2 linked regions of the Homo sapiens genome follow. The protein of the gene in region 1 interacts with the protein of each later gene in a pairwise test. Each region holds a gene or a part of one and is shown on either strand. Other genes may lie near its edges. The genes, in order: PCCA and TMEM132D.

What was found.
Region 2: the proteins of PCCA (region 1) and TMEM132D interact in a two-hybrid assay, tested with the Homo sapiens proteins (one large-scale study listed by BioGRID).

Annotation. Positions count from the first base shown.
Region 1 is NC_000013.11:100,087,574-100,092,058, forward strand, and holds the start of PCCA (propionyl-CoA carboxylase alpha chain, mitochondrial isoform a precursor), read left to right. Parts: upstream 1-1,519; 5' UTR 1,520-1,547; coding exon 1,548-1,652; exon of another isoform or gene 1,653-2,686; coding exon of another isoform or gene 2,687-2,692; intron 2,693-4,485. UniProt on the Homo sapiens protein: This is one of the 2 subunits of the biotin-dependent propionyl-CoA carboxylase (PCC), a mitochondrial enzyme involved in the catabolism of odd chain fatty acids, branched-chain amino acids isoleucine, threonine, methionine, and valine and other metabolites.
Region 2 is NC_000012.12:129,697,955-129,701,765, reverse strand, and holds part of TMEM132D (transmembrane protein 132D precursor), read left to right. Parts: intron 1-1,067; coding exon 1,068-1,956; intron 1,957-3,811. UniProt on the Homo sapiens protein: Regulate neuronals morphology via inhibition of the WAVE regulatory complex (WCR), a complex that controls F-actin cytoskeletal dynamics.

The sequences.
Region 1 (4,485 bases):
TTTGTCACAAAAGTCCCTACTTACATTCTAAAATTCCATTAAATGTCACCTTTCTGATATCCCCATTTTATTTCTCTCTCTTTGGGCATTTACCATGCTGTAGTGTACTCTAGGCCATTCCTAGCTTTGTAACTCTCTCAAGGTGACTCTGCAGGAGATGCAAAGTAGTTAAGAGGAGAACCCCCAATACTGATGTGTTTATAGGTGAGGTGGTCTGATGTCTTAGATTTGCTTTAAAATATTCCTGCACAAAATAAAAAGGGGAATAGATGAAACAAGATTGACAAAATGTTGATTCATTGACGCGGTGTAATGGGTATCTGGGTGATCATAGTACAATTTTATCTCTTTTGTATATATTTTAAAATTTCCATAATATAGCAAAACATGAGCCCAGTCCCTCAAGGCAGCCAGATTTGGGTTCAAACCCTAGTTTGACCTTTTACTCGCTGAGTGACTTTACCCTGCTACAGCTTCAGTTTCTCCAAATGGAAATAATATATACTCCATTAAGGTTCTTGTAAACTCTCAAGTAAGAGGGAATCTGAGGCTCTAGCACACGGCCCGGCCCTTAATAGTTGTACTAATTTTTATTTTATTTTTCGAAACGGAGTTTGCTCTGTCACCCAGGCTGGAGTGTAGTGGCATGATCCGGCTCACTGCAACCTCCACCTCCAGGGTTCAAGCAATTCTCCTGCCTCAGCCTCCTCCCGAGTAACTGGGATTACAGGAGTGCGCCACCACGCCCAGCTAATTTTTGTATTTTTTAGTAGAGACGGGGTTTCGGCATGTTGTCCAGGCTGGTCTCCAACTCCTGACCTCAGGTTATCCTCCCGCCTCGGCCTCCCAGAGTGCTGGGATTACAGGCGTGAGCCACTGCGCCTGGCCAGTAGTTGTACTAACAAGGGTTTCTGCTTGCGAGCAACAAAGACTGACTCTAGTTGTGGCTAATTTCTTTCACACACACATATTAAGTGCCAGAGGTAGGACTTGAGCTCGGATCTCTGATTTCCAGACCTAGAACTTTTTATGTGTTATTACAGTCGTTAAAAACCTTACCTGGATTTGTGCTTTGCAATTTACGCTTTCGAACATGCAGGAATGTAGTTTGGGCATTTGTCTGGAACTTCGGATTCTCGGGACTCCAGGGTGGCCAAGGCGCGGAGGTGACTCAATGACATTGACCGGCCTGGATGCACGTGGGTTGCTGAGCCGATGCTGGGAAGGTACGGGGTTTGCCCGGTGCAGGCCGCCGGAACTCACGCACGCCCCTGTCTCTCTCACTCCTGGGGTCGGCTCTGGCCGGTGGCCTCCAGCTCAGCTAGCGGCCGGACGCGCAGCCCGCCGACTAGCCCTCCAGGTCCTAGCGCGACTCCCGGATCCCGGATCCGGCGGATCTGGCCGACCACTCACCCTCCCCTTTCCGCAAGTTAGGGGGCGGGGCATCGGGTTTCTGGCTCGTGATTTGCCGGAGCTCCTGCGCTCCCCTTCTCCACCCCCTCCGGCTGTGTGAGAGGTCAGCAGAGGGGCGGTCTGCGGGGACAACAATGGCGGGGTTCTGGGTCGGGACAGCACCGCTGGTCGCTGCCGGACGGCGTGGGCGGTGGCCGCCGCAGCAGCTGATGCTGAGCGCGGCGCTGCGGACCCTGAAGGTGAGGAGCAACGGGGCCTCGCGGGTCCGGGCTTCACTGGGCTTCTAGCCGTGCCGCCTCTGGGCGGCTGGCGCCGGGAGAGCGCTGGCTGGGTCCGGCTGCCCCCGCGCCCCGGTTCCGCATCAGCTACACCGCTTGCTTTCCTCCCTCCCGGAGTTCGCGTGGCAGCGGGCTCAGGAGGCATCCCTCGTTGCAGCTGTTCCTCGCGGGGATCCTGCGGAGCAGAGAGGCCTAGGGCAGAGGCAGTTGGGTGCCCGCACGCCCTCCGAGGCGGCTGATGGCTTTGGGCAGGCATATTGCTCGAGGTCTGCTTCCAGGGCCCCGCGGCATTGGCTTTGTCTTAAGCTTTCCAGGGTGTCTTTTTAGGTGTCCTTATAGTTTCCGTGTTCTGTTGCCTCTTTCCAGCATTTTTGAAGGGACACTGTGAACTGTTGCTTAAGTAGTGTTAGGGTTGTGAGTTTGTCTTATCTTTTAAAGTATTATACCATGTCAGGACTGCCAATAGATTTTACGTTTCATTTGAAAGCCTGTTTTAATTGTATGACACCCCAGTCTACTGTGTACCAAATGCATCCCGTGAACTTACTTTCCTTTTCGGTATAGTGGTGAGCCTGATTTTGGCACTGTTCTAAACACATTTCATGACTGTTCTGTATACCTAGGCTGTCATGATGGCAGATTGACAAACAGGTTGGAGTGCTTGTGTGTGCTTCTGAGCTCTGTCTCCAGTCAATGTCGAGTCTGTCGTTAATTCTGGGGCACAGACCACCTAACCTACTTTATAAGGTTTGTTGAGGCACTTGAACACATTCTTTAAAATGAAGGTCCCCTGAAAACCATCTGTCAGCTGGTTCAGTGTGCTTGTTAAACTTCCTTTTAAAAAATAATTATTAAAACATTGCCACATAACTTGATTTATAGTCATTTAATTTTAGACGTTGAAGACACTTTAGAGACGACCTGCCCCATCCTACTCTTTAAAGAGGAGGGAACCGAGCCCCAGGTGGGCAGTATGAGAGCTGGAGCTTATCGACATGGAAGTGAGTGGCACCTATGTTTGTTTTGTGTCCAATTCAGCGTGCGGACTTTCACTGTTTTCTGTGTTCCCATACAGTTTAGTGTTCTTTAATCTTTATCATTCTGTTCATCTGTGTTGGCCACTTCAATTGCAGCTGTAAGACTTATGCATTTACATAGGAGGCAAGTTAGTATGGTGTAAAGTGTGGGCTTTGGGGTCAGGCGCATGAGGCTTTGTATATTGGACAGGTCTCTTCCTTGGGCGTCAGCTTCGTCCTTGTAGCTATTTTTTTCAACAAATATTTACTGAATATCTCCTGTCTTCCACTTCTGGGGAATGAATATGGTTTCTGCTTTCTTAGAAATTTTACTCTAGTAGGGAGACTGTAACAAGTGTAAAATGGTATTAGGGGAGATGCCCGGGTGCTATAAGAAAATAAAATAGAGGGATTTGACCAAGCCAAGATTTTGAATTCTGTGTTCTAGATACTGTTCTGTTGCTTTGCTTGAACTAATTTATTCAATCTCACAACAGTCGTATGTCCCCCATTTACAGAAGATGAAAGTGAGGCACTGAGTGTTAATGTGACTTGCTCGAAGCTATAGTGCCAATAAGTGGCAAACAGGATTTAGAACTCCAGAACCTGTGCTCTTAATCATACTATGCTATCTACGGTAAGGGAGTGTTTTCCTTTGGAACTGAAAATTGAGACAAGTTTTGAAGGATGAAGTGACCTTTTCTAACAAACAGAGATGAATGTTATAGGTGAGAGAGCAGTGTATGCAAAGGTCCTGTGGCCAGAGGGAATGACAGGTTAGAAGAACTGAAAAAAGCCTACAGAGGCTCTGATGCAGAGAGTAGATGGTGTTGGGGAAGCTGGCAGGAGTCAGACCATCTGGCTCTTATAGATCACATTATGAGGTTTGGTGTTTGTCTTAGAGCAGTGGGAAGACATTGATGTTGGAGGTGGGAGGGATGACACTGACATTTTAGATTGGAGAGGCTGAGAGGAAGGCTGTTACTGTACTTACTGTTGTACACTTGTTATACACTTACTGTGTAATACATACGCTTTGATGATTCTTACCTGGTTTTTTCCTTTTAATGTGTTGGCAGAGACTGCATCTTGTCTATTTCTGTGTTCTTAGTACAATGTTTGACACAATAGGTGCTGAATGTGTAACAATAGAGTAGCATTATGTTTGTGCCGGTAAAGAATTCCTCCTTGGGGTGGGAAGCATCTCTGAAGTTCACTATCACTCTAGGGGAACTTGAGCTGCTGCTTAGCTTCTCTCTGCGCTTCTCTTCTATGAACTTGAAATATGCTCTACTGAGTCTGTTTGAAGCTGAATCTTTTGAAGATTTTAACCCCTCCCATCCCTCCCTCCACCTCTGCAAACCTTTTGGTTGGTTGAAAAGCAGCCAGCTAACTCTAGGGTCTAGTCTAGAGAATTCTGACCATTCTTTTAGCCAGTCAACAGAGTTTATTTATTTTTAGGGTATATGTAGAGTTCACCTTTTAGTCTTATTTGTTTTGTGTATCAGCTTTTTAAGCACATTCTGTTTTAATGCCTAGTTTTTTCTTCTGCGTAAATGTTTTCAGTGGCTCTAGGATGTTGGTTTTATGGTAATTGCTATAGTTATTATTGAACTCTTATATGCCTTGCATGATTTTTCTTTGCTTTTCTTTTTTTTTGAGATGGGGTCTCGCTCTGTTGCCAGGCTGGAGTGCAGTGGCGCGATCTCAGCTCACTGTAACCTCCACCTCCTGGGTTCAAGTGATTCCCTTGCCTCAGCCTCCCAAGTGGCTGGGAC
Region 2 (3,811 bases), on another chromosome or scaffold:
ACTTGTGGAGCTTTGCCTAGAAAGTCAGTGTTCCCAGCCAATAGTTTACATTTCTAAAACTCCTTAAATTGGTTCTTTGGATTATGCAATTGCTCTGCCTGCATTTTTCTTACAGAATGTAAGGCAACTTGTGAAAATAACATTTTGGATTTTTCTCCCCCTGAGGGAGAGATACGTTCAGTGCGGAAAAATGAACAATGGATTTTGTTCGTTGGTGACGGCGTAGTGTCCACAGGATGTGGCTGGCATGGAAGCGAGGTGCTGCCCTTCCCGTGCTTCTTAGGTTCAGGGTCCAGTGTTTCATAGATGACTTGGAGCATTGCTTTGTACGCCCGGCCCTGACACATTGGTGTCGTGGTCACCTCATCTCATCTATTTCTAGAGGGCCCCTCCCAATATATCCTTCCAAGGTATTTTCTCTGCATCTCTCCCCTTAACTCCAACTGGGGGCGGGTGTCCACTGTCCATGTGATTTATGATTGTGCATCTGCGTCTATTTTTGCCCCAAGTCTGTTAGCATTTCCCATTGGACATGTGCGTATATGCAGAACGTGCATATGAGTGGAACACAAAGGAATATGTATCAGGTGGAATGTGGACGTGGCATCAATCCATGTGTTGAGGAAGTCATTCCTGTTTCCAATCTCAGTCTGTGTTGAGTCAATGGGACGGTGCCTCTCTGTCGATGGTAGCTTGTCTGTGACAGCTTTCTAACACTTGCTAATCTCTCCTTTGATCAAAAAAAGAGCAAGTCTTTACCATAACCCCATAAAAACACCATTATCACGAGTGGAAATTTTAAAACTGTATTTGAATTGTATTTATTTGCATGCTCAACTTTTTTATAGGTTAAATGATACTGGTTTTCTACTTAGGTTGGTGGCATTTATTTCTTCTGAAACAAATAATATGAAGCGAGTAGATTGGATTAAGAGGTTTGGATAAGGAATTGCATAATTGGCGCGAAGACAGGGTCCTCTGTTATGAAGGGGGCACGCAGATGTCTGAAATGCTGGTAACAGGACCTTAGCATTACTAACGCCTGCACTGCGATTCCCTCCCCACAGTGACGGAAGGTCGAGGGATCCTTGAGAGCATCCAGAGGTTTTCCTTGCTGCCCACCTACCTCCCCGTGACCTACCACATCAACAACGCGGACGTCTCCTTCTTCCTGAAGGAGGCCAACCAGGATATCATGAGGAACTCCAGCCTGCAGTCCCGGGTGGAGTCATTTCTGATTTACAAATCCAGGAGGCTGCCTGTCCTCAATGCCAGCTACGGGCCTTTCTCCATCGAGCAAGTGGTGCCCCAGGATTTAATGCTACCTTCCAACCCATTTGGATTCACCAACAAATTTTCTCTTAACTGGAAACTAAAAGCCCACATCCTGCGGGACAAAGTCTACCTGAGCCGGCCCAAAGTGCAGGTTCTGTTCCACATCATGGGCAGAGACTGGGACGACCGCAGCGCCGGGGAGAAGCTGCCGTGCCTGAGGGTCTTTGCTTTCCGAGAGACCCGAGAGGTGCGGGGCAGCTGCCGGCTGCAGGGGGACCTGGGGCTGTGCGTGGCCGAGCTGGAGCTCCTGTCCAGCTGGTTCAGCCCCCCCACGGTGGTTGCCGGGAGGAGGAAGTCCGTGGACCAGCCGGAGGGGACCCCCGTGGAGCTCTACTACACCGTGCACCCAGGGGGTGAGAGAGGGGACTGCGTCAGGGAAGACGCGAGGAGAAGCAATGGGATCCGGACAGGCCACAGTGACATCGATGAGTCCGGGCCCCCCTTGCAGAGGATCGGGAGCATCTTCCTTTATCAGACACACAGGAAACCCTCCCTGAGAGAACTGCGTCTGGACAACAGCGTGGCCATCCACTATATACCAAAGACCGTGAGGAAAGGAGACGTGCTGACTTTTCCTGTTTCCATCTCCAGAAATTCCACTGAAGATCGCTTCACGTTGAGGTAAGTCGTTTCCCAATGTCTGTCTGTACCCGCCCGTCGATCAGGTGGTGTTTTCCAGAAGCTGTTTGACCAGAAAAGCTGTGTTATCGCTCACCGAAGTAGAGCCGGCCTTCCCGTTCTTACAAACTCCATCTGCACCGTGGAATACAGAGACCAGTCTGATCGTTCCGGGTTGGCAATTGGGTTGTGAGAATATTCGTCTTAATAGATTTTCCAAGCCATTGATAGGGCAGCCGGGGGGCTGCTGATGGTACGCCTTTTCCCTTAGCTTAGGGTATTATCAGCAAGTTTTGGGAATGCTAAAATTATCCAAGAAGGCTTTTCAAAATTGGGAGAGTTAAATGCCTCACAGCTGAAATGAGACTGCAAATGAAATGGCAACAGTTGTCAGAAAGGACAGGGAACACGGTTTTGCCAACTCAAAATCTATTCCAGATATGTAAGTTCTAAGTATAATATGGTACCAACCTCAAAGTTACCATTTTGTTTCTCCCTGGAAATAGAACTTAGTGTTCAAAAAAATAAATGAGCATAACGTGTGAAGAATATACAGTAGAATTTGTTGAGTTTCTTATATAAGAATATACCAAAGAGAAGACATTGAAAATAAGCTCTGTGTACTTTAGAATAAATATAGGCTGGTTTTCACTGTGGAATATAACGTATGAGAGAAGCTACTTGCCTAGGCTTGTTTGTATTTTCATTATATAGTTTTAGTTTTATTTTCAACACAGGCAAGTTTGATTACAACAGCTGTTTAGTAGAAGTGTTTTTGGGTTATTAAAAATGTCCTAGCACTGCTACATAACTCAACAATTTGACCTGATGTGCAATGTAATAAAATGTGTGTTATGACTCCTGAAATGAGGAGTGTAACTGTATGTAAGACATGTTTCATATGTGGGCTTATAAACTTCATCCAATGATGACCAGCTCTCTATCCCCCTTCATATGGGATTTATGGCTGCTTTTTCTAGCTTTTCTTTTCTTCTTTTCTTTTTTCTATTCTTTTCTTTCTCCCTCTCTTTCTCCCTCTCTCTTTCTCCCTCCCCTCTCCTCTTCCCCCTCCCCTCCCTTCTCCCCTCTCCCCTCCCCTTTCCTCCCCTTTCTCCTCCCCCTCCCCTCCCCATCTCCTCCCCCTCCCCTCCCCTCCCCCTCCCCCTCCCCTCCCCTCTCCCCTCCCCTCCATGCCGTCTCCCCTCCCCTCCCTCCCCTCCCCCCTCCCCTCTCCCCTCCCTTCTCCCCTCCCTTCTCCCCTCCCCTCCCCTCCCTTCCCCTCTCCCCTCCCCTTTTTTCCTTTATGTTTAAAGGGTGGATGAGTTTAAGAAAATAAATCACCGTTTTGATTCTACCTTGCACATTTAAGTTTATTTGATTGTGACCTAGTATTAGAAATGCCTATTTTAACTAAAGAAACAGAACCTAATGGACATGCATCTAATGACTGAACTTGGCTAAGTCCTGGAAGGTAAAAACCTTTGGCCTGGCTGGACGTGCCATTCGCGGAATAGCCGCAGGGATTTAGGGTACAGGAACACATCTGCGCTGGCCAAGCCTTCATTAGCGTTCCCTTCCGTCCTTCTGGAAATCGGATCTAGATCCAGCTGGCCACAGGTCCTCAATGAGGTCTGCTAGCTTTGTGTTTTACTTTTCTGGGTTCAACAGTCTTACATAGTATTCTTTGTGAGGATGGCTGCTTACGTAGAGAAATATTTTGGTGGTGGAAACAAAAAGTTTGAATAGGGGAGCTTTGATCTTACACCGTTTCATACCGTCTGCCATTTTTTAGGTCCGCCAACGACTGACTTGATTTTCTGAACGCAGGATTAAACACTGCAATCCCCTGAAGCTTTGA